4 separate regions of the Homo sapiens genome follow, and regions 1, 3 and 4 are each linked to region 2. The links come from fine-mapping of genetic effects on gene expression. A gene starts in region 2. Each other region holds a variant in brackets. All regions are shown on one strand. Distances are between the middles of the regions.

Evidence for each region. PIP is the estimated chance that this variant, and not a neighbour inherited with it, causes the effect. A credible set is the group of variants that fine-mapping cannot tell apart.
Region 1: its variant is the best candidate, but not a certain one, in a credible set for the expression of TBX19 in NK cells (Gilchrist 2021, PIP 0.50).
Region 3: its variant is the best candidate, but not a certain one, in a credible set for the expression of TBX19 in whole blood (INTERVAL, PIP 0.67).
Region 4: its variant is the best candidate, but not a certain one, in a credible set for the expression of TBX19 in whole blood (INTERVAL, PIP 0.61).

The regions. Positions count from the first base shown.
Region 1 is chr1:168,955,619-168,961,873 of GRCh38, reverse strand. The region is part of intron 3 of LINC00970 (long intergenic non-protein coding RNA 970); the gene reads left to right. Among named protein-coding and RNA genes, the nearest start is that of LINC00970, 130 kb to the left of the region's middle. The variant G/A (reference allele first, on the strand shown) is at 2,571.
Region 2 is chr1:168,277,568-168,283,822 of GRCh38, reverse strand. It overlaps TBX19 (T-box transcription factor 19), which reads right to left and starts at 2,946. Exons shown (of 8, transcript NM_005149.3): 1 at 2,530-2,946. The coding sequence starts at 2,732.
Region 3 is chr1:168,322,824-168,329,078 of GRCh38, reverse strand. No RefSeq gene overlaps it. Among named protein-coding and RNA genes, the nearest start is that of TBX19, 45 kb to the right of the region's middle. The variant T/C (reference allele first, on the strand shown) is at 3,173.
Region 4 is chr1:168,360,843-168,367,097 of GRCh38, reverse strand. No RefSeq gene overlaps it. Among named protein-coding and RNA genes, the nearest start is that of MIR557, 12 kb to the left of the region's middle. The variant C/G (reference allele first, on the strand shown) is at 2,607.

The sequences.
Region 1 (6,255 bases), 680 kb before region 2:
TCTGCCCGCCTTGGCCTCCTAAAGTGCTGGGATTGCAGACATGAGCCAGCGTGCCTGGCCTGTTCCTCCTCTTTTTTTCATTCCTCTTGTTTTGTTTGAGGACTGATCTTACAGGTTGCATCTCCTAGGTTTCCCTGTCAGTGACCTTACTTGGATTCAGCCAATGGGAAAAAGGGAGAAGCTGAAGCATTTCTTCCTATCTGCTTGTCTTGTAAGTGGCTGCAGTGATGACTGCACTTTATGGATCTGCTCCAGCTGGCCACGGGTTCTAGTAACACTGACTTCCTTCTTTCCAGTCCTTGGGTGGTAATAGCTTCTTGCTGGCTGTTAATCTCTAGGTTGCTTCACCATCCTGTTTGGGTTTAACTTTTCCATCACCTGGAATCAATTCTTTATATTAAAACACTCCAGTTGTAAGTAGTTAAGGCAGTCAGACCCTGGCTGACACAGGAAGGGGTACTCTACCTAGGGTGAATTCATAGAGGAAGTCACATTTGTACTAGATCTTGAAGTTTTGCTGACTGATTTCCATTAATTAATTCCAGTGTGGTCATTCTGGACTCTGGTCTAGAGAAGACGCAGGGGAGAAACAGTTTGGAGCTCTGATCACTCAGCTAGGATTAGCAGAACCTAGGATGGTGGGTTACAACTGTTTCTAACTCAGGGTTTCTCACCCTCAACACTGTTGATATTTTGGGCCAGAAACGTCTTTGTTGAGGTGCTGTCTTGTGCATTGTACGATGTTTAGTGCATCCCTGGCCTCTATTCATTAGGTGCCAATAGAATCCCCCCATCCTGCCTAAGTTGTGACAACCAGAAATGTCTCTAGACATTGTCAAATGTCCTGGCTGGGCGGGCTGTAAAATGTCCGACGTTGACAACCATTCTTCAAGTTTTGCTGATGGCTCAGCATCCAAGTTCCACACAGGAGAACCCTTTGATTCTAGGGTCAGAAACGCACTACCTTCCAAAAAGAGCAGCTGCTACTCTGCTCTCTCCTTCATCTCTACTTCCCTCAGCCAGCAAGTGCCTCCATTTTTGATAAACACTGTCTACTAGAGAACAATGATCCCATAGTCTGGAAGGGAGTGTCAGGGCCAAGCCATTGTCTTCCTGCCAGGAACCAGTGACACAGGAAATGGGGAATCATCAACCATTACAATACTATAATTCTCTTTGGAGTTTTGAGATAAAAGTTGCAGAGCTCTGAAGGATGTTTACTTTTATCCTTCATGATAAACTTTTTTCATAAGACAAATTTTCTGCCTCTTACCACCTTAATACACACACCTAACCTGGTCTATTGAACAAAAAGGAACAAATATACTTATCCTCTTTGAGAAATAACAACATTCCTACTGCTATTACCATTCCATCAAGAGCTGCCTATGACAAACCAGGCATTTTGTATGCATGTCAATGTATCTGGTTAATCTTCACAATAATGTAATGTAAATATGTTTTGCAATGTAAATATGTTTTTCTCAGTTTTATAGCTAAAGAAACTACTTGCCTAAGAAAACAAATTTAGTGTTGGTGAGGGACATCAAAATTTCCCTTATCAGTTTAAGATAATGGCCACACCTCATGCTTGCATTGTGCTTTATGAGTTTGTAACTATTACTTTACATGTATTGTCTAAGTTATACTTATAGCTTAAGTACTATGGAAATTCAGAGAAGCTCTAAAATGTTTGAGGTGGATAGAGAAAGTTTCGTAAAGAACTGGGGTGATTGCAGGAAGTTTCATAAAGAAAATAAGCTGGTCCCTGAAACCGATGTGTATCTGAATACTTATTGCTAATGGTGTTGGTAGAGGTGGTAGTGGATGGTTCATTTTAGACAGAAAACATGAGCAAAGATCCAGAGTTAAGAATAAAGAGAGCAAATACCCCGAGTTAAGAATAAAGGGGTATGCAGGGGAAGCAAGGGAATAGGCTTTCCCAGCAGGAGCTGGTGATTCATGATGGTGGGGAGAGAGATGGGGTAGGGATGTTTAGAGGATCAGTGTATACGGAGCCTGGAAATCCAGACGAGGGAGTCTGGATATTATGAAACGGTCATTGTGAGATGATTGAAGTTTGTAAGCAGAAATGAATATTTTACATCCCACTCAGGTGTCACTTCCTCGGAGAAGCCTTATCTACCCCCTTCCTTGTGCTCTGCTTTGAGTGTCAGTCTCCCATGGTGCCCTGGTACTTTTCTTGATCATGGCCATATAAGACTGTGAGCTCTTGGAGGACAGAACTCTTTGTGTCCCCAAGGCTTGGCACATAGTAGGACCATCTTTGTGTCCCCAAGGCCTGGCACATAGTAGGACCTCAGTAAATAGACTAAATGATGAATAAATGGACCCTAACAGGGAACCACATCCTCCTCTGACTTCTCAGGGCCATTTGAGGATGGATTTCTGGGAGCAGAAGCCACTGGATGTGTGAAAACACAGGTTGTGAATGCAGGAAGGTGCAGATGGAATCTCAGCGCTTTCTCAAAGAGGTTCACTTCAGAAGGGCATAGCTGGAGGGTAGATGAACCGAGAAATTTTCAGGTTGTTGAGAACAAGGAAATGTC[G/A]GTGAGAATCACCAAGTTCATCAAAATGTACTTGAAAAGCATGACCATCTTCACTCATCTTGAAACGTGGCATGTTTCAGACATTATGAGACAATTAGTCATTGCTGTTGCTTCAACTAATGTCCACTGCTTTTCTGTAGGAAATAAAATAGTCTTATTCTTAATCTAAAACACCAGAAAATATTCTTCCAGATGCTTTCCTCTTCCTGCATTTCCCCCCACTCCCCTCGCATTCACATTGGCATGTGGACATGTTCTCACCAAGTGAGTCAGTTAGATAGGAACATTAATTTATTTGAGCAGATGTCACTTTAAAAAAACAACATTGCACCATGGCACAAAGCTTACAAATAATGTCTGTCATGTAGCAGTGGTGCTAATATAAAGAAAAGGGGTAATTTTGGTGAATTCAAAGAAGATAAGATTACTGTAATTATGGGAAACTGCTTCTAAATAATCCCAGAAAAAAAGAAAGGCTGTTTTGTCTCATGTTGAGATAGGGGAAGGAGGAGGGCGGCAGCCTGGCAAGGAGGCAGGCTGTCAGAGGGGAGGAGGTGGAGATGGCGATGTTTAGTGGTGTGTTCACGTGGCTGACTTTGCCTGTCTTTAGCAGAACACTTCCCCTAAAAGTACCTGAGATGTTTGAAAGTCACTGGGGGGAAATATCCAAAAGTTTGCTCAGAATAAACTACAACTCTCCCTCCTCACAGGTTGCCTAAATCTAATCCATCTCTCAAAGCCCTTCTCAAATCCTTTGCCTGCATGAAACCATCCATTTCAATCTAGCTTATAGGACCCTTTACCTCTTGAAAGTGGGCAGTGAGTCATATGGCAATTAGGGTGAGTTTTATGACTTTGGTGTTGATAAACTATCTTTTATTGTCATTTAGTTTTTCATATGTTCACATACTGATTCCCTAATAAGGTCGACATCTCCTTGAATGGAGACATGGTCGTGTATATCGCCCTGGGGTCCCACACAGGGCCTTACATAAAGTAGGCCCTTAATGCATGTTGGTTGGTTGATTGATTTTCAGTATTAATGTGAATGGCTGCCAGCTATGGTGGTCCACTTATGTGAGGGGCATCTGATGAATTAAAAAGAAGAAGGAAACTAACATCCATCAAGCACCCATGAACCAGGCCCTTCATTGGGATTGGATGATCTTAATTTACTTATTTAAAAGAGAGGTTCCCAACCCCACATCTGTGGACTGCTAGGAATGGGGCTGCACAGCAGGAGGTGAGCAGCAGGCAAGTGAACCAAGCTTCATTTGTATTTACTGCTGCTCCCCATAACTCGCATTACCACATGAGCTCCACCTTCTATTAGGTCAATGGCAGCATTAGATTCTCATAGGAACATGAACCCTATTGTGAACTGCACATGCAAGGGATCTAGGTTACATGCTCCTTACGAGAATCTGATGATCTGTCACTATCTCCCATCACCCTTAGATGGGACCTTCTAGTTGCAAGAAAACAAGTTCAGGGCTTCCATTGATTCTACATTATGGTGAGTTGTATAATCATTGTATTATATATGGCAATGTAATAATAATAGAAATAAAGTGCACAATAAATGTAATGTTCTTGAATCATCCCAAAACCATATCCCCTGAGCCCATCTGTGGAAAAGTTGTCTTCTACAAAACTGGTCCTGGTGCCAAGAAGGTTGGGGATCACTGATTTAAAACACCATGAAAGAGATATCCTAATTAAGGATGAGCAAATACAGATTCAGGGAAATTAAAAGTGGGTTTCCCAAGCCCATAAAACTCTTAAGTGACAGAAGCTAAAATGTAATATTAGACTTGTCTGATTCCAAAGTTTCAGATAAGCTTTAATGCCCCCAATATCCTCCCTTTTCATTTGGGTGATAACAAAGTGTGGCAGTTTTATCCTAGTAGCTTGAGACTTTGACACCTGTTGAATTAAAAACACTCCTAGGGAGCACCCAGATTCATAAAGCAAGTTCTTAGAGAACTACAAAGAGACTTAGTTTCTGACACAATAATAGTGGGAGACTTTAACACCCCACTGTCAATATTAGACAGATCAATGAGACAGAAAATTAACAAGGATATTCAGGACTTGAACTCAGCTCTGGACCAAGCAGACCTAACAGACATCTACAGAACTCTCCACCCCAAATCAACAGAATATACATTCTTCTCAGCACCACATCGCACTTACTCTAAAATTGACCACGTAATTGGAAATAAAACACTCCTCAGCAAATGCAAAAGAACGGAAATCATAACAGTCTCTTAGACAACAGTGCAATCAAATTAGAACACAGGATTAAGAAACTCACTCAAAAACCATACAACTGCATGGAAACTGATCAACCTGCTCCTGAATGACTATGGGGTAAATAATGAAATTAAGGCAGAAATAAGTTGTTTGAAACCAATGAGAACAAAGACACAACATAATAGAATCTCTGGGACACAGCTAAAACAGTGTTTAGAAGGAAATTATACCCACAGGAGAAAGCGGAAAAGATCTAAAATCAACACCCTAACATCACAATTAAAAAGAATTAGAGAAGCAAGAGCAAACAAATTCAAAAGCTAACAGAAGACAAGAAATAACTAAGATCAGAGCAGAACTGAAGGAGACAGAGACGCAAAAAAACTTCAAAAAAAATCAGTGAATCCAGGAGGTGGTTTTTTGAAAAGATTAACAAAATAGACTCCTTGCAAGACTAATAAAGAAGAAATGAGAGATGAATCAAATAGTCACAATAAAAAATGATAAAGGGGATATCACCAGTGATCCCACAAATACAAACTACCATCAGATAATACTGTAAACACCTCTATGCAAATAAACTAGAAAATCTAGAAGAAATGGATAAATTCCTCGACACATACACCCTCCCAAGACTAAACCAGGAAGAAGTCGAATCCCTGAATAGACCAATAACAAGTTTTGAAATTGATGCAGTAAGTAATAGCCTATGAACCAAAGAAAGCCCAGGAACAGATGGATTCACAGCTGAATTCTACCAGAGGTAAAAAGAGGAGCTGGTACCATTCCTTCTGAAACTATTCCAAATAATAGAAAAAGGGAGACTGCTCCCTAACTAATTTTATGAGACCAGCATCATCCTGATACCAAAACCTGGCAGAGACACAACAAAAAAGAAAATTTCAGGCCAATATCCCTGATGAACATTGATGTGAAAATCCTCAATAAAATACTGGCAAACCGAATCCAGCAGCACTCAAAAAGCTTATCCACCACAATCAAGTTGGCTTCATCTCTAGGATGCAAGGCTGGTTCAACATACACAAATCAATAAACGTAATCCATCACATAAACAGAACCAATGAAATAAAACCACACAATTGTCTCAATAGATGCAGAAAAAGCCTTTGACAAAATTCAGCACTCTTTCATGCTAAAATCTCTCAATAAACTAGGTACTCATGGAATGTATCTCAAAATAATAAGAGCTATTTATTACAAAACCACAGCCAATATCACACTGAGTGGGCAAAAGCTAGAAGCATTCCCTTTGAAAACCAGAACAAGACAAGGATGCCCTCTCTCACTACTCCTATTCAACATAGTATTGGAAGTTCTGGCCAGGGAAATCAGGCAAGAGAAATAAATAAAGGGTATTCAAATGGGAAGAGAGGAAGTCAAATTGTCTCTGTTTGCGGAAGACATGATT
Region 2 (6,255 bases):
TTTTAAAAAGTCAAGGTGACAATGTCAATGAAAAAGGGCCCAGGTGACATTATGAATGAAAAAGGCTAGGACTGGGTAATCATACCAGGAACATTCTTCTCCACAGGGAAGGGCCACAAATCTACCTGCACCAGGTGCGGGAGTTGATGTGGAGGGCAAGGATTTGAAGGAGACACAAAGAGTCTATAGACATAGGAGAATGGGTAGAAAGGAGGCATAGAGGAATAAATAGTTAGGGAGAAAAGAGAGAAGGAAGAAGGGAGTAAAGAAGATGAAGCAAGAAAGATGTCTATATTAACAAAGGTAAAGTGTGACTAATGGTTTAATCTGAGAAACTAAGAGGTTGGGGGTAATTTCAGACCAAGTTCATTCATTATTAAGTACATCAATTTCTTATGGACTTGTCTTCCCTTCTTTAATCAAAGTATAAAGGAAACTTTCTATCTCCTGGCAAAATCTTGACCCTAAAGGGCTCCGAGAGCTTAGGAGAATTTAAGAAAAAGATTTCATCTATAGGAAGACGGCAAACACAGCAGGACATCCATAGATAAGAACAGCCAAGTTCACCGCAATCAGACTTTTTCTACAAAGAATATTGTTCATGTAGCTAATATTAAATGACGTTAAAGATGAAGGATTTCATTTTGCTTTTTAAAGACAGGGTCTCACCGTGTTGCCCAGACTGATCCCGGGCTCAAGGACCCCTTGCCTCAGCCTCCTGCGTAGCTGGGACAACAGGAGCACACCACCACACTGGGCTGATGTGAAGAATATTACATTTTAAATATAGGGGAAAATTACATAGGCAATAAAAAGGCAAGATAAAACTTTTCTTAAATGGTAAAAGTACATTCCAATGTAACATATTATTAAATTGGAATTTATCATGGTTTCAGAAACTTTTATTATTTATTCCTTATTGAAATAGATGAACCATATATTGACTTGGTAATTGTACTTATTTTTACTTTAATAAATGGCCAATTTGACAGCCCAATCAATAGCATAAGGCTAGGTATTACTGTAATTAGTATCCAATAATACAAAGAAAAATAAGCAGAATGTTCTACCTATAATCAGATATAATAAAATTTTTACAGTTGCATCTTTGCCCATTTTTAAAGGGTCAGAGACTAAATCCAATTAAGAATTTGGTGTAATTCTGTGAAATTAAAACTATGTTTTATGTTTTCTTCTATGAAAGAAGCTAAAAATAATGTGTAAATACAGGTCAAGAGAAGGAACTATAATTACAGTAACAATATTAAAAGCAATAAATCTATATGAAATAAGTGTGGAACCCATTTTGAGAAAGAAAATATAAAAATCAAGCAAGGTTGATATTCCTGCTACTGGTATAATCGCAATTTCTTGAAATGCCCTAATTCAGGTATGGCTTTCATTTTAGAAAGCATTTTAATGCCATGTAACAGCTCTCGAGTTCATAACTCTTCAAGATTGACAAGAAATAGTTCATTTTCTATACTGTGCTTTATTAAAATATAGAAAACCGAGACATCAGGAACGGAAGCACTTTGCACAAGGACAAAAGCCTGACAGAAAGAAGTTCAGATGGCCTCGGCTCTTCTCTTTTATCAGAATTCTCTCGAGGGTGTCATAATTAGAGTTCAGCCAAAACTAAGCCTACTGAAAATGCCTTTCAGCATTTTGTACTTTTGTGACCATGTGTATGAAAAGCTATGTGAACACCAGCTGAATGTTGGAGCCAGTTTGGCCAAGCTGCGAGCGGTGAGATTTTGTTTCAAAATATTTGCGTCTCCTCTACGAAGTGAAATCTTCTAATATTACCTGGACAGCCCCTTAGCAGACTAGGTTTAATAGAATCTGAGAAATGCCACCAGAGATCAGTTTCAGTTAATCCCTAAATTTGTTGCACTGATAAGAAAGAAGGCATCTTCTTTTCTCTAAAGCAGAATAATATGTTTTCATCCACTATTACTGCAACAGCTTTCATATCATCACAAACACACACAATCTCAAATGAACACTCACCACAAACACACACGGGGAAGCAGATGAAGTGATAGGCAATGAGTTTACATTTGCCCTTTTGCTTCCAATCTTCAACTAGCCAAACATTTCTGGCAAGTTTGCTATACTTAGGAGGAGATCATCCAGCTTCCAAATAAAGTTGTCTTTCACCTTATCTGGACGGAGTTGGGGCTCAGGTCTGCGATAGGGTATGCAGCTAGTCACAAATTAATATTATTTTCTGACATTTAAGTCCATTTTCCCATCCCAATGGGGCATGCCCCCCACTTTATGGTAATTTCCCCAGAATTTCTCCATTTAAAATGCACATAAGACAGGTGGCTTCATCCTCTGATGATCTCAGATAAATTAATTAAGTTGGCTGGAGGAAAGCCATTGGAGACAGTCGTTCCTGTAAGCATGTTTAATCAGATCCCGCCGCCTCTGAGTGAAGAGCGGCAGCCTCTTCAATATTCAAGGGGTCTCATCTCTCCTGCCAAGCCCTGCCAGCCCACGCGGGGCGGCAGATAAACTCACCTGCCATTCTTGGTCACAATCATCTCATTAGTGACTTCCTTGAATCTCTGCCAGAGAGGTGCATCCTCCAGGATGATCTGAAGTTGCTTCTCCGTAGGGTCGCCTTTTTCCCTCCCTGCCTGAAGCTCACTCTCCACCACATTGAGCAGATGAGAAACAGTGCCATCGCTGGGCTTCCGAGTGCCCAGCTCACTCATGGCCATAGGCACTTCTCGAACTTTGCCGAGAGCCGTTACCCAACTTGCCTGCTTCTAGCTTCTTCCTTCCCTCACTTGCCTGCTTTTCAAACCCACTTGAACAGTGCTTGGGGAGCGGAGAGAAGATACCCTGGCTCTTGCCTAAGCTCCTAGGATGACACCCCTTAAAAGTCTCCACATTATGCCACCAACCTGTTAAGCTTTAGTTGGGGAGCGGGGTGGAGGCAGGGGAGAGGTAGGGAAGAAAAAGCCCTCTCTTAATTACTCATTGGATCAGGTGGGAGAGAGCCTGGCTTTCCCATTGGCTGCCGTGCACAGAGTAGATATTTAAGAAGAGTACTCCATCCAAATTATCAGGCTTTTATCTTGTTGTACCTGAAGAGGTCTAATCGGTGTATTGAGGACCATTTTCCCATTAATTAAAATTATTCCAGGCCCAGACTGCACTGTCAGGCAAATCATGTTTGTGCATAAATCATGACATGTGGCACCTATAAAGAAAAGGGTCCTGGGGAGAATCGACAAACTTGATGCCCAGGCTATAAGCTACTCTCCAGCATCTTAGACGAAGGCTCTGGAGGGAAGAAAGCATGTATGGAAGGTCCAAGGCACTGTGCCAAGAAACATGACTACTGTACCAGAGAATAAAGGAAGACACTCTGTGTGCCACTGCTCAAGGGTCAGGGCTCCGGAGAAAAGAAAAGAGCTCAGAATCTCTTTCTCCCAGGGTGTCCCCTACTGATCATCTCTCTCCTGAATGTCCTATACTCGCTCACACCCCACTTTTCTCAAGGGCCCTCCTCACCTCCTACAAATGGAGCTGTGAATGTTGTCCTTCCTCCCTAGAGTCTAGAACCCCAATTTTTGTTATCTCTAGCCTTTGCCAGAGGAAGACAAAAAAGCAGCTAGTATCATATTAATCTCGCTAAGGAACACTCTGCCCCCAGTCAGTGAAAATAAACTGTTTACATTATTAGGCAGAGCAATTTCAATCTTTGGTCCAGAAAGGCATTCTGGTTTTCTCTTTAGACAATTCATCCTTATTTTGGCATTCCAGGATGAATCCCACATTCCCTGGGAAGAAACACTAGTAGAAAGCTTTTCTTTTGCCCACAACACACAGTACTAATGGCGAGTGAGTGGATGGCGGGTGGAAGAGACAGGAGCAGAGGAAGCTCTACCTCCTCTGGCCCCCAACCTTGAGTAGAGCCTGGGGGTTGTGAGTTTTTCTCTCATTTCAATACAAAGTAAGAAAACAAGAACATAAGGAAAACAAACCCAAAAAGGTAAGATAAAGTCAGGGTAAGGATGACAGAAAATGTATTCAGGATCTCCTATGCTACATACCTATGAAGCATCACATACAGCAAGGAACAAACAGAAATGGCCTGCGCCTTTACAGAATTAACAATATGATGGAGAAAATAAATGATATAAAGTAAACAACAACTAAGTAATTATCAATAGTGATAAGTCTATGAAGGCTACTTAAAAGGGTGAAGTGATCAAGAAAAATTTGTGCACAGCAGGGTAGGGAACTCCAGTTAGATGGAGTTGTATAGAACAGCTTCTTTGAGGAGGAGACATTTCAGATGAGACCAAAAGCTCAGCAAAGATGTAGTCGGGGAAGAGTTGGCAGAGTGCCAAGCAGAAGAATTACATGTGAGAAGCATGGCTTGAGCCAGGTAGAAATCTCCAGGGAGGCCAGTGTGACCAGAATGTGGTGGTAAAGAGAGCAGAATGAGATGTTCTTTGAGAGAGGGCCAGGCCAGACCATGAGGCCTTAGAAGTCATGATGAAGAATTTGAATGTTCTTCAGCATGAGATAGGAAACAATTGGAGAGTATTAAGTAGGAAAACAGCATGATTGGCTTTGTGTTTGCAAAAAATCTAATCGATTTGTGAAGAATAGACTAGGAAAGGGCAAGAGCTGAAGTAAAGAACAAATTAGAGGCTATGACAGCAATTCAGGCAAGAGCTGGTGATGGCTTAGCCTAGGGTAGTGGCAGTGGCCAAAAAATGAAGTGTACAGGTTCTAGATACACTTTAGAAGTCTATATGACAGAACAACATGAGAGACTGGATATGGGGGTGAGGGAGAGCAGAGAACCATGTGCCTGATCAGAACAATTATTAGATGGCAGGGCCATTTACTGAGATATGGAAGGTGAGGGAGGTGGAAGGGTAGGCAGAGGTACAGTTTGGTTAGGAGACTCAAACATTTCAGTTTCATACAGCTAACACTGAAAAGAATGTGGCAGGCTGAATAAGGACCCCCTGCAAAAGAGACCCATTTCCGAATCCCCAGAACCTGTGAGTGTATTACCTCACATGGGAAAAAGGGACTTTTCAAATGTGATTCAGTTAAGGGTCTTGAGATGGGGAGATTAACCTGGGTTATCTGGTGAGCCCAGTGCAATCGCAAAAATAAGAGGGAGGCAGGAGGATCAAAGTCAGAGGAAGAAGATGTAAGGACAGATGCAGAAGTCAGAGGGGAGAGAAGATGCTACACTCCTGGCTTTGAAGATGGAAAAAGGGGCCAGAAGACACGGAATGTAAGAAGTCTCTAGAAGCTGGGAAAGATAAGGAAATAGATTATCCTCTAAAGCCTCCAGAAGGAACATAGTCCTGCTGACACCTTGGCTTTAGTCCAGTGAAACTAATTTTGGGCTTCTGATTCCCCAAACTGTAAGATAATAGGTTTATGTTGTTTTAAACCACTAAGTTTGTGGTAATTTGGTACAGCAGCAATAGGAGACTAATGCAAAGACTATTAGGTATATAAGTGGAGATTTTGAGAAGGCGCTGCTTAGAACTGTGACACAATTGTGGCTCTGAGCTTCCAAGCAGCCAATGCAAAGTGGGGGAATATAATCTGGCATACATTAAACTGTGTCCCTAAAATAAAAGCAAGCCTTGACCTGTGAGAAATTTCCCCCATAAATCTTTATGAGGAAAACGCTGTGAGATACAGTGAACAATGTCTCCCCAAACAGTCTACCAGTAAGATAAAAATCTTTCCTTCAAATAGTTTTACAATCTAGAAGGGACAGAAAGACACGCTTGTGGAATTCCAATACAGAAATGTGAAGTGTTCTGAAGCACCAGTAAGGGAGAAATGAAGAAAAAACAGAACTAAGACTGGAATATGACAAGGATGACCACTTACACTACTGTTATTCAACATAATACTAGAAGTTCTAGCTACAGCAATCAGACAAGAGAAAGAAGTAAAAGACATCCAAACTGGAAAGCAGGAGGTCAAATTATCCTTGTTTGCAGATGATATGATCTTATATTTGGAAAAAACTAAAGACTCTGCCAAAAAACTATTAGAATATATAAACAAATTCAATAAAGTTGCAGGATACAAAATCAACATACAAAAATCAATATAGCACTTCTATAGGCCAACAGTGAACAATCTGAAAAAGATATCAAAAAAGTAATCCCATTTACAACAGCTACAAATAAAATAAAATATCTAGGAATAATCTTAACCAAAGAAGTGAAAGATCTCTACAATGAA
Region 3 (6,255 bases), 45 kb before region 2:
TAAACAGACACACCTGGCCCAGGAGTCAGAGAAGCTGAAGGAGGAGTCAGATAGGCTGGAGCAATTGCAGGCCGAGCCACCGCCTCGCTCCAATGGATAAGCGAGAACTTGTATGAGCTGAAACGTGGATGCTGCTTCACTTCCCATTAGACTCTCTCTGGGGGATCCCCTAAGTGGCAATATATAAGAAAAAGATTCTGGGAAATACAGTTCAGCCTAGCAAAATTCACACATGACAAAGCTACTACATTGAATCAGAGAATACAGCTAAGACTTGAAATCAAAATGAAGCTCTTGTCTCAACTCAGACCTTAGGGCAGGCCTGTGGCAATTGATCTGACCTAGAGAACAAGAGAAAGGGGAGTGCAGCCTCCTTACACACTGGAGGGTGGCAGAGTATAGACGGGGGATTCAGTGGCTTTACCAATGTGGTAGCAGCCAGAGACAGGATTATTACTAAGCTAAGGAGGTTTAAGTATCAGAGCTCTTACTTGCAAAGATCTGTCCAAGATGTTAGGGGGACACTATCAAATCAATAGTCATAATTTTTGCATTTCCAAAATTGTTCAATTTAAGGCACGACACGACCTGGGTCCCTCCCTTAATCTCTGCTTAACCTGGTCCAGTGGGCATCTGATTGTCACTGGGTTCCCTATATGTTATTTCTTCTCCCATAGAAAAAAGCAGGTGAAATGGAGAGGTGGCAGAATTTTTTGTCCCCAAAACTTCTTCAAGGGGACAGAATCTCCTAAAGAGAAAGTGTCTTTCTTTAAGGGTTGATAAAGGAACAATGGGAAAAGAGGCAAATTATCACAATCTGTAAAGAAACGGCCCAGCTGGTCACCAAACACGTTTCCTCTTCTTCGTGGGCACAGGCCTAGACATTTCCCACCCCCTCTCGTGGCCTGTGATGGATTTCTAATGGAATATGAAAGGAAGCAATAGGCATTGTTTCCAGTGTTTGCTGAGAAGAATCATCCATATACACTTTGTCTATGTACTTTCTCCTGCTGGCTGAGGTAAAAGAGAGAAGACATCCACCACCACTACCACCAAGGGAAACTTGAGAGCCTGTGTTAAAAATGGAAGAGCCACGAAATGGTTTCTTCAATCCAGAAGCCGTGTCAGAATGTCACATAAGTAAAAACTGAAGTCTTACTGTGTGAATTCACTGAGATTCAGGGCTCTAATCTATCACAGAAGCTAGGATCCTGTACAAAGACACATACCTATATAATTGTTTGTTTTTGGTTTTTGGTTTTTTGGGGGGTGTTTTTGTTTTTGATTTTGTTTTTTTGAGATGGAGTATCGCTCTGTCACCCAGGCTGGAGTGCGATGGCGCGATCTTGGCTCACTGCAACCTCCACCTCCCGGGTTCAAGCGATTCTCCTGCCTCAGCCTCCTGAGTAGCTGGGACTACAGGTGTGCACCACTATGCCCAGCTAATTTTTGTATTTTTAGTAGAGATGGGGTTCACCATATTGCTCAGGCTGGCCTTGAACTCCCGACCTTGTGATCCATCCGCCCAGCCTCCCAAAGTGCTGGGATTACAGGTGTGAGCCACCACACCCGGCCCAAATAAACCATTTCTTTTTAATCAAAAATAAGTATCATATGAACAATGTGGTAAAGAAACTTAAAGAGAGAAAGATCTGTTTTGTCAGCCATGAGAGCTTCATAAGTTAGACGGATTGTGTATTGGACCTTAAAAGTTAAATGCGGTTTAATAGGAAAACATTAAAGAAAGCAGTTCCACGTGGAGAAACAGTAAGAGCCAAAACTAAGATGTGGAAAGGGTAATAGTAGATTGGCTAGAACATAAGTTTTATGTAAAAGAATACTGGGCAATTAAACTGGAATGGCATGTTGAGGTCAATTTTAGAAGGTTTTCCGCAGGAGGCTAAGAAAATTGGCTTTTATATTTCTAGTAGTGAGTTATTGAAGGTTTCTGAGCAGAGTGGTGACGCAACTCACATGGAACTTTAGGAAGATGATGCTCATAGCAATTGTAAGATGGCCTAAAGACAGAGAGGGGAAGCCATAGCCATAATCCAAAAATATGAGAATAAGAACATGAATGACAGCAGTGTTGTGAGACAGTTTTTTATGGGTCTCTCACAGCTTAGTTGTCCAAATAATGTGAAAAATGTATTGTAAGCTCTAAAGCACAATATAAATATCAATTATTATTTTTATTACCATTAACATTATTAAAGGAAAAGGAAGGGGATGAAATTCCAAGCCAATGTTTGCTGCTTAAACAAGCAATCCTCAATAAAGTTGGAGGTGGGAGACAACAGATTAAACTAATGATTAAAGTGGGTTTTGGGAATTATTTGTAATTGTCAATTTTTTAAATTCTCTCACTCTCCCCATTAATATGGAAACTTCAGAGTCAATCATATCAGAACCAATGGGAAACATCTGATGAGGGATTGGAGAGAGACACAGAAAGATTATGCTGGGAATTGTTATTAAGAAGATTCTCCCATGAATAATGGTAAGTTTATCTTTAGCGATCATAAAATTTTATTTAAAATGCATTTCTGTGTTGCTTACTTCTCCTAACTTCATTCATCTTCCACTCTTCATTTTTTGTATCCACAAGTCACACCAGCTTTGCTAAAGTGATAACTGATAGCACTCAGTCAGGATTGAGACTAAGCATAGCACAGCCTTTTCACAGGACTTGCAATGTCTATAGAGCATAAATTGGTGGGAGGGAAGATGAAAGTTGTACTTGCTTTTGTATTTGGATAAAAACAAGAATGTAAGCATCACTCCATGGGGACCCAGTACTGGGGAGATGCTTTTCTACCCTGGTACCTTTTAAGTGCATTACACTGAAATATTTATGCATGTTGCATTGCAAATAAAAGGAATCAACTAAATGCTAAACTCATAACATGATTAATTTATTGGACATCTATGGTCCTGTACCTCCAGTAATCACAGAAAGTCTTCAAACAACAAATAACTCTTTAAAAAAAAAAAAAAGATAAAATAATGAGGTCAGCAGGAATAATTGGATACTCTGTAAAGGTCAGAAACATGATATCAGAATAAAGGAAAGAGAGTTTAGTTCAGTTCAGAAACACTCACTGAGCCTCTACAATGTAATGGGCATTTGTGTAAGTTGCCAGAAATACAAAGATGAAGGAGACACAGGGCC[T/C]GTCCTTGGGGAGCTTCAGCCAGTGAAGGAGAAAGATGCCTAAAAATATAAAACTGAGGCAGTTACAAAAATCAAGACCTTCAGATGTCTACATTGTCAATTGACCTTGGGAAAGACCACCAACTGATACAAGAAGAATTATGTGGAAGGTTCTCCATTTTTGTCTAGGCTCTAGGAGGAAGAAAAATTGTTCCTTGATAGTTTAAAATCTCAAACTGAGATCTCAAATTTAGGGGTGGATAGTTTAAAATCTTGAACTTGAGACTGGATTTAGCACTGGTTCAACATGTGGAGACAAGAAAACCCCAAGGTAAGAAATTAACATTAAAATTGGTCCTGATCTGATCTGGTAGATTGTTTTGTTTTGTTTTGTTTTTTTCAAAAATGGCCATAAGAACATTTCCCATGCCACATGCTCTTCTTACGAAATCCCTTTGACATATCTGCTATCAAAAGATGGAGTCCACTTTCCCTCACCCTTGAATCTGGGTGAGCTGCAACCATGACAGAAGTGATACCCTATGCCTTCCAAGGCTAGGTAATAAAAGGTAAGACAGATTTTTCTGGCTCTCTTCTGGATGCTCACTGTTAGAACCCAGCCCCATGCCATGAGCCCAGTCACTTCAAGAGGACACATGTAGGCTGTAGGCATTCCAGCCAACAGTTCTAGCTGAGGTCCCAGATAACATTCAGTGTCAACCACCAGACATGTGAGTGAAGGAGGCTTTATATGACTCAGCCCCCAGGCTTTGGTTCTTCTCAGCTAGGGTCCCAGGTACCACGGAGTAGAGACCAGCCGTCCCTACTGTGCCCTTTTTGAAGTTTTGTCCAGTAGACTCCATGAGCTAATTAAATGGTGGTTTTGTGTCACTACACTTGAGGGGGTTAGTTATGCAGCAATAGCAGCTAGAACAAATGGTGATACGTCAGAGGTACAGAATGAAAGCAAATATAAGCCATTCTGAAAAAACACTCATGACTCAAATCACAGGCAATGAGAGAGACAGAGACAGAGAGAGAAATCCTCCAACGAAGATGAGCTACCCATCAAAAGTACAAATATACAATAAGAAATCATTCATGAGTGTGAGTCAATAGACACAATAAACTGCAGAATTAGATCCCAAGAACTTTGAATAATAGTATGATAATCAGACCAGCATATAAAATGAGTATATTTACAATTATTTAAATTTTTTAAAAAACAACAAGCAGTTGTAAAACTTAGGAATAGTTTCACTGCTGCAAATAACACAAAACCCAAAATAATTTACTTTAAGATAGAAGGTTATTTTGTCCTATGAAAACAAATCCCAGAAGTAAGAAGTCTAGGGCTGATATGATAACTCAAAGAGTATGGTGAACTCATAGTCCTTCTATCTTGTGGCTTCTACCTCATAGTTCAAGATAATTTGATTCTCAAATTGTGGCTTCTACCTCATGGTTCAAGATAACTGCTCAAGTTCTAATTATTACATCTGCATTCCGCCAACAAGCAAAGGGAATCCAGGCTAAGAAGTTCTCAACCCTCCCTTTAAGAGCACTTCCTGGAAGTCACACCGTATTGGAGCACATTATTTGTGGCTTCAGCTTTTTCACAGGACTTTCAATGTCTACAGAGGATAAATGTGAGGGAGGGAGGAAGGATAGAATTTGTATGCTCTTGGGTCTTTGCATAAAAACAAGAATGTAAATATCACCCCATGGAGGCACAGAACTGGGAAGATGCTTTTCTACCCTGGTACATTTTAAGTGGATTACACTGAATTATTTACACGGACAGTTTGCTTATACTCTGTACTGGGTTGAATAGTGTCCCTCAAAATTCATATCCACCCAGAAACTCAGAATTTGACCTTTCTGGAAATAACATATTTGCAGGTATAATTAGTTAAAATGAGATCACACTGGATTAAGATGGGCCTTAATCCAGTGACTAGTGTCTTTATAAAAAGAGGAAACAGACAGACACACAGGGAGAACACCAGGTGATAATGGAGGCAGAGATTGGAGTACGGCATCTACAAGCCATGGAATGCCAAAATTGCCAGCAGCCACCATAAGGCAGGAAAAGGCATGGAAATAGCACACACATCTGTAGGAGAGGCTGGGAGGTGCCTTGATTCTATGTTGCCAGAAATGACATAACAATTACATTCATTTAGTACCAATGTTTGTTAGCTATATACTCTGATTGCCTTTTCATACAGTGATTTTTGTAATATTATTTTCCATAGAGAAACTAGAAAAGTAATTTAGTCTATCTCTAAAATGACTAATCAAGATTTAACGTGGTGGGATTTGGGGGTATTAATATTTTAGAACGGTTTCTTTCCATGTCACAAGCAGTTGTTGCTAATTTCATGTATATTTCTAAAATTGTCAAATTTAGGGAGACTTGTATTAAGTTTCTTTTATATCCGAGACATTACAAGTGTATTTGCTGCTTATGGTGTTGCTAAGGGTTTCTGCCTTACAAACACAGGACTTCTAATACATACATTTTTAGAACGCCTATCAAAAAGAGAAATAAAGTATGGTGTATTGCCAGACATGGTGGCTCACATCTGTAATCCCAGCACTTTGGGAGGCCGAGGTGAAAGAATTACTTAAGCCCAGGAGTTTGAGACCAGCCTGGTCAACATCATGAGATCCTCATCTCTACGAAAAATAAAAAAGATTAGTTGGGCGTGGTGGGACACATGATGTAGCTTTGTAACACAGGGTGATAGCAAGATTGGAAACTTATTTATTACTGCTTACATTGTAAATTGATGCAACCAGTTTAGAGAACAATTGAACAATACCTGCAAAAGTTGAGCTACACGTATTCTAAGTCTGGGATTCTACTTGGAGGTATCTACCCTGCAGAAACTCTCATGTATGTTCACCAGAGAAATGTACAAGGATGTTCATTGCGGCACTGTTATATTAGATAGGAGTTCTAGAGTACTAGAGCACTGTTGACTATAGTTAACAGTATTATATAGTTTCAAATAGCTAAAAAGAGGATACTGAACATTCCCAACGCAAAGGAATGATAAATGTCTGAGATGATGAATATACTGATTATTCTGATTTGA
Region 4 (6,255 bases), 83 kb before region 2:
TAAGGAATATGTGCTTCTCAAGAAAGGGGCCCTATCTTTATTTTTACACCTTTCTCTCACCCCCTGCCTCCTATTCTGTTAGCCAGAGAATTGTATTGAGTAAACACAGGTTGGCTAAATAAGTAACTCTCTGACAGAATTATATATCTTCCGAGCATTCATAAGTGTTCAGAAAATGGTGCTATGTGCCATAATATTTAGGGAGCCCTGGTTTTCCTGAAGATAGTTTTCAAAAAACAAGATGCCTCCGAGTTTGCCGATGGTCTCATAAATAACTATGCAGTCACCTCCCTTGTACACCAGCAGCTCTTTCAGCTAAGAGATCTACACATTCTGAGCTCTCCTCTCCTTACCACCTCCCAACCTCATCTCCATAAGTCCATGGTCACAGCATTGATGTTTTGAAAAAAATCAAAGCTTAGAGGAAATGTAAAGAGAATAATCTATCAAACTGCCCCATCCTCTTTTGGGCCCTCTGCCTGATTTAAATCTACCTCCAGATTTGTGGACCCCATACTTTTCATGACTAATTTTACTTAAGTAGACTCTCTTTACTGCCATTTTTAAAATAATAATTTCAGGAAACTCATTTTCTCACCCAGTGGCATGTATTATGAAATACCCAGTACTGCTGTTTCTTTCACGAGCCTTCCAGTAACAGAAGAATCTGACGCTCCCCTCTTTCCTTTCCTCCATTCTTTCCCTGCCCAAGCTTTCCATCTGGCATCATCATCATCATTACCATCCTAACAGTGCTAGCCACAGCTGACACAGCCCTCTCATGGCCCTTATCTATTTCACCCTGCTCCAATTGCTGTCAGTGCACAACCAAGATTCTCAGGGGCCCTCGTCTCCCTTCCCCTGCCGGCCACTCCACAGCTACAGCATTCCCAGGCCACCACATGATTTCTGTGGATAAAGTGACCCACTCGTGGTAGAGGAAAGTGTCACAGAGTGGCAGGAGCCAGGAAAGGTGGCAGGGAAGGGCTGTAACAAGAGGACAGACATAAAGCTAAAACCCAAAGATCAAACTGAATGGCTGGTAGAAATACCAGTCCCATTTAGAAAACTGCTTCTACCCCTGTGGATGTCATTGCCAGCTTGGAGTTTTCTTAGTGTCATGATAAGGTGAAAGGTTGGGACAAATGCTGACAGCAGCACTTCCTTTCCTTCAAACACCAGGTGGTGCCAGATACAGATTTCTTTCAGCCGTAAGTCAACCTAGTGACAGAGAGTAGTCGTCCAATGAAGCTCACAGAGCAGCCTTCATGTACAAAGGGATTGTGTTCCACTCGTGTCCAAGTCCATTTCTGTGAACTTAAAAATGCATTTTCCCATAGAATTGTTTTTATAAAAGGTGGCTGCGTTCCAAAACCACCTGCAAAAATTCCCATCCAAAATGTAGTTGAAAGAAAAGTCACCTAGTAGGGAGAGACAAATAACTCTGATACTAGGAATGAATGTCAAAGATGATTTTAAATAATGGGTAAAACTAGATAGGGAGTTCTTTGAGTGCATGATTTTTTTCTTATTTAATTATTTTTCTGCTTTCCCAGTCTTAGCCGACTGCCCATCACTAAATGTTTTTACTCATTTCAGTGCTTGAGAAAAAAGCAGTTTTCATTAAAATTGTATTCAGATGTATCTAAAAACTTGTGTGGATTTTCTTTTTTTTTTTTCTTTTATTTGAGACAGTCTCACGCTGTCACCCAGGCTGGAGTACACTGGCACAATCTCAGCTCACTGCACTCTCCATCTCCTGGGTTCAAACGATTCTCCTGCCTCAGCCTCCCAAGTAGCTAGGATTACAGGAGCCCACCACCACACCCAGCTAATTTTTGTTTTTTGGTTTTTTTTTTTTTCAGTTTCACCGTGTTGGCCAGGCTGGTCTCGAACTCCTGACCTCAAATGACCCACCCGCTTCAGCCTCCCAAAGTGCTGGGTTTACAGGAGTGAGGCACCACGCCAGACCTGGCTTTTCTAAAATGACTCCCAGGATTTTTGATCCTGACTATACCAGTTGCCTAATTTCACCCTCAGATATAGAACTTTCCTTTCCACTGATGTTTTGATGGCAATATTCATGCATTTATCAATGATAATTTAAAAAATGGTCTACAAATGGACTAAACAAATAAAAGAGATAAAGGAGGAAAAAAGAAAAGGAAGTAAAGGAGGGAGATTCTTCTAAAGTACCTGGGCAAAATTCCAGGGGATAAGGTGGGGAATATTGTTAAGCTAGAAAGGAAAGAAAGCAAGAGGGAGAGAGAAGAAAAAAGGGAAGAAAAGAGAGAAGAGGAGAGGGAGAGGGAAAGGGAGGAGAAGAGAAAAACCAAGACAAGCAAGACAGGGGAAAGGAAGCGGGCAATGCATTGCATGTTCTTCCAGGTAGGGAAAGAAAGACTGTGGCCAGGACAAGATATTAGAGCTGACACTGCCACCTGCCCCTCTCACAGTCCACCTTGACTGGGTGGCTTATGTCTGCCTGGTGTGGTTTGAGCGTATCTATGTGGCTGTGCTGGAGGGCAAGCTTACATTGGTTTCATGCTTACGGAGTTTCTCTACTTCAAAAGTAAACATTACAGTGAGTTAGAGAAGAGCAAGCT[C/G]TAGCCTAAGGAATCTACTATTGGCATTTTACAAAGGTAATGGTGAAATTCACCTTTCTTTTTCCCATCTGCATGATGGGAGAATATAGTACAGTGTTTAGAGCTCAGGCTCTGGAGTCAGACAAAGGCTTAGAAATCCAAGCTCCTACTCTTCCTTGCTCTGGGACCTTGGGAAAGTTACTTAATGATTACTGACCTCCGTTTCCTCACTTACAAAATGGAAAAAATTATATCTTCCTCAAGGAAATGAAGATTAAAAGAAATATCACATGTAAACAGCCAGGTACCATGCTTGGTATCTGATACATTTTTTAACATGGTAGCCATTATTTTTCTTACCATTATAGAACAGTAATTGGTGTCACAAGATTATTAAGGCTACCATGAAAACTAAATAATCTCGTGCCAGCAAAGTGACACATTACATATCACCAACCAGCATAACTGGGAGTTGAAGAACTAGCAAAAAGAGAAGCTGCTGAATGGGGACTGAGCGCAAATCCACAGTATGAGCCAGATCTGCAGGGCAAGCCTGTCCTCCCAACACCTGGAGCTCAATGGGAATATGAGCATTCATGTGGTGGGGAAGTGGGGCAGTACACAGGGGACTTCTGCCACACTGTCCAGCTGGCCAGCAACTAACTGTCTTAGTCCATTTGTGCTGCTAAAACTAAATACCTGAGACTTGGTAATTTATAAAGAACAGAAATTTATTTTCTCACAGTTCTGGAGACTGGAAAGTCCAAGATCAAAATCCTGGTATTTGGTCTGGTGAGGACCTTCTTGCTGCAACCTCACATGGCAGAAGGTGGGAGGGCAAGAGAGAGCCGAAGAGCAGGTTAGCAAGCCAACTGAATGCTGGCAGAAGCCTCTTTAATAAGTGCCTTGATCCCATGAATGACAGAGGAGCCCTTATGGCCTAATCACCTCTGAAAGGCTCCCATCGCCTAATACTGTCATATTGGCACCACTTGAATTTTGAAAGCGACGTATTCAAACCATAACAGAAACCCACATTCTATTTGGAAGAATTTCTCATTTTTGTGAATCTTGGTAAGAGAGAGTCTGCCTCCTACATACTACAGGAGCCAACTGAACTCTTTCTTCCAGAGATGCCAGTAGGGATACCAGTACCATTTAGAAAACTGCTTCTACCCCTTTGGATGTCATTGCCAGCTTGAGGTTTTCTTAGTGTCATGATAAGGTGAAGTGTTGGAACAAATGCTGACAGCAGCACTTCCTTTCCTTCAAACACCAGATGGTGCCAGATACAGATTTCTTTCAGCCATAAGTCAACCTAGTGACTTAGAGAGTAGTCGTCCAATGAAGCTATGAGTTATGAAAAAAAGCACCTTGGTTTCCTGCCTCATGACCCACAGGAGCCAACCCGGTTCTGTTTTCAGTGATGGGTATCTGAGTTACCGGCAGCGAATGTGTACAAGTCTGAAGCAACCTCAATTCTTGCCTCCTCAGAAGAAAAAAATTGACTGAGGGACATAAGGCAGAAGAAGAAACTGAGGCAAATTTTAGAGCATGAGTGAGAGTTAATTAAAAAGCTTTAGAGCAGGAATGAAAAGAAAGTAAAGTACACTTGGAAGAGGGCTAAGCGAGTGTCTTGGAGGACAAGTGTGGGATTTGATGTTTTGGCTTGGAGTTTTATATGTTGGCATACTTCTGGGGTCTTGCATCCCTTCTCCCTGCTTCTTCCTTTGGGGTGGGTTTTCTGCATGTGTAATGGCCTGCTAGTGCTTGGGAGGGGAACGTCAGTGTCTTTACACATGCTCACTTGAGGCGTTCTTCCCATTCCGGTGCAATGCCCACAGAAGGTCATATACAAGTTAAACTCCACCATTTTGCCTCTTAATGCACATGCTTGAGCTCACTCGCCCAACTCCTGAAATTTTATCAGGAAGCTACTGATCACCAGTTTCAGGTTTTTTCTATCTATAGGGAGACTGCCTTTCCCTGGCACTGGCTGTGACCAATTATTATTTTAGAGAGACAGTTGAAAACCACCTGATCATCACCTGATGGTTGCCCCACATTATTAGGCAGATCCACCTCCTGCCCTGCTCACACCTGACTAGCTACTTACTGTAACAATTCCTGCATGCTTGTCATGCCTGATTGTTCAGCTTCCCAAGGAGTTGCAAGCCCCAGATTCTATTTCTGTTATTTAAACCCAGAAGAGTCTGACCTGGCACCTTATAAGGTCAGTGGACTCAATAGTTCCTCAGTTGCACTTCTTGCCCAGTGATGACCTTGGTCACTTTATAAGATCATTTCCCTCTTCAGAAACTACAGAGCATCTTGACAGTCCAACATCCCAACCAAAGCAGAGATAAACTGTACCTCACTCCCAATCAAGGACCCACCAGCCCCTTCGTCAACACCTGAGTTATGGTTACTGAGTACTTAGGGAGGAATTCTTCTAAGTCCTTTGCAAGAATTAATTTATTTAGTGCTTGCACTACCCTACAAAGTAGATACAATTATTATCTTATCCCCTGTTTCATAGAGGAGGAAATAGAGTTCAGAGAGGTTAACACACGTACCTAAAGTTACAGGAAAGAAACAGGACTAGGCTTTGAACCCAGGCAGTCAGACTCCACAGCCTAGCATCATACACCAACTTATACTGCTTCTCAAAAGCTGCCTAAAAATAAGTACACAGAGTTATTTAGTGCTAACATGTGCTATGAAGAAAAACACAGTAGGGAGATGGGTAAGGAGAAAAAAAGAGTGATGGGCTGATCTTTTTGTAGGATGCTCAGAGGAAGGCCTGTTAGAATGGAGTTGCTATAAACTGAGAGAGTGAAGAGTGAAGAAGAGTGGGTTTGGAGAACTATTTCTGGCCTTTGGTGCCACTCAGAACTACTCAGTCACACTTCTATATAAAATATCTTCCAAGATCTGAATAAAACTCTCTCTTCTCTACCCTTCCATAAATCACCCCATAATTTTGTGCAATGCTCACTTTCCAGTGTTGTAACCACCTTGAAGACCTGCTTTGACCACAGCCCTGACTCTCAATGTCTTCCTTAAATGGTAAGTCTGCCACCGACTCCAGACTCAGACCCAACAGCACACAGGCAAGTTCTTTACACTCAATCTAGACCTTGCCTGCCTCTGAACTCTCATTGTCTGTAGCTGCTGTATCTTTTGGCTCCCAGATCTTTTCCCACGAACAGTTCTCATTCTATATTCTTTCTTCATATGAGTCAAGGATAAAATTCTTGAACAGGACAAAGTCAAGGTCCAGGACAGAGTCCTCTGCCTCAACCAGAGACCATCCCACAGGCTGAGAATGGATGTTGTTTGTTTCAACAAATCTGGGTACATCTGACAACAATAGCATCCAGTCATATATTATACACTCTTCTCCACCAAGATAGCCAGAATGCACATTCCTGAATGTCAGGCAGAAATGACAATACATTGTATCCACAGATGTCCCTCAGCTTACAAATTAGTTGCTCTGTTTTAAAAAGTAGAATGATGTTAATTTCTTATATGTTCTTCCTGTAGGAATTTATCCCTCCGTCTATTTCAAATATGCATAATCTCTTTAAGAAATGGGTATTTGAATGTTATCTGTGTCATAACTTGCTTATCTGCCTGTCGCTCTCTGTGATTTCTCAGCTGTTAT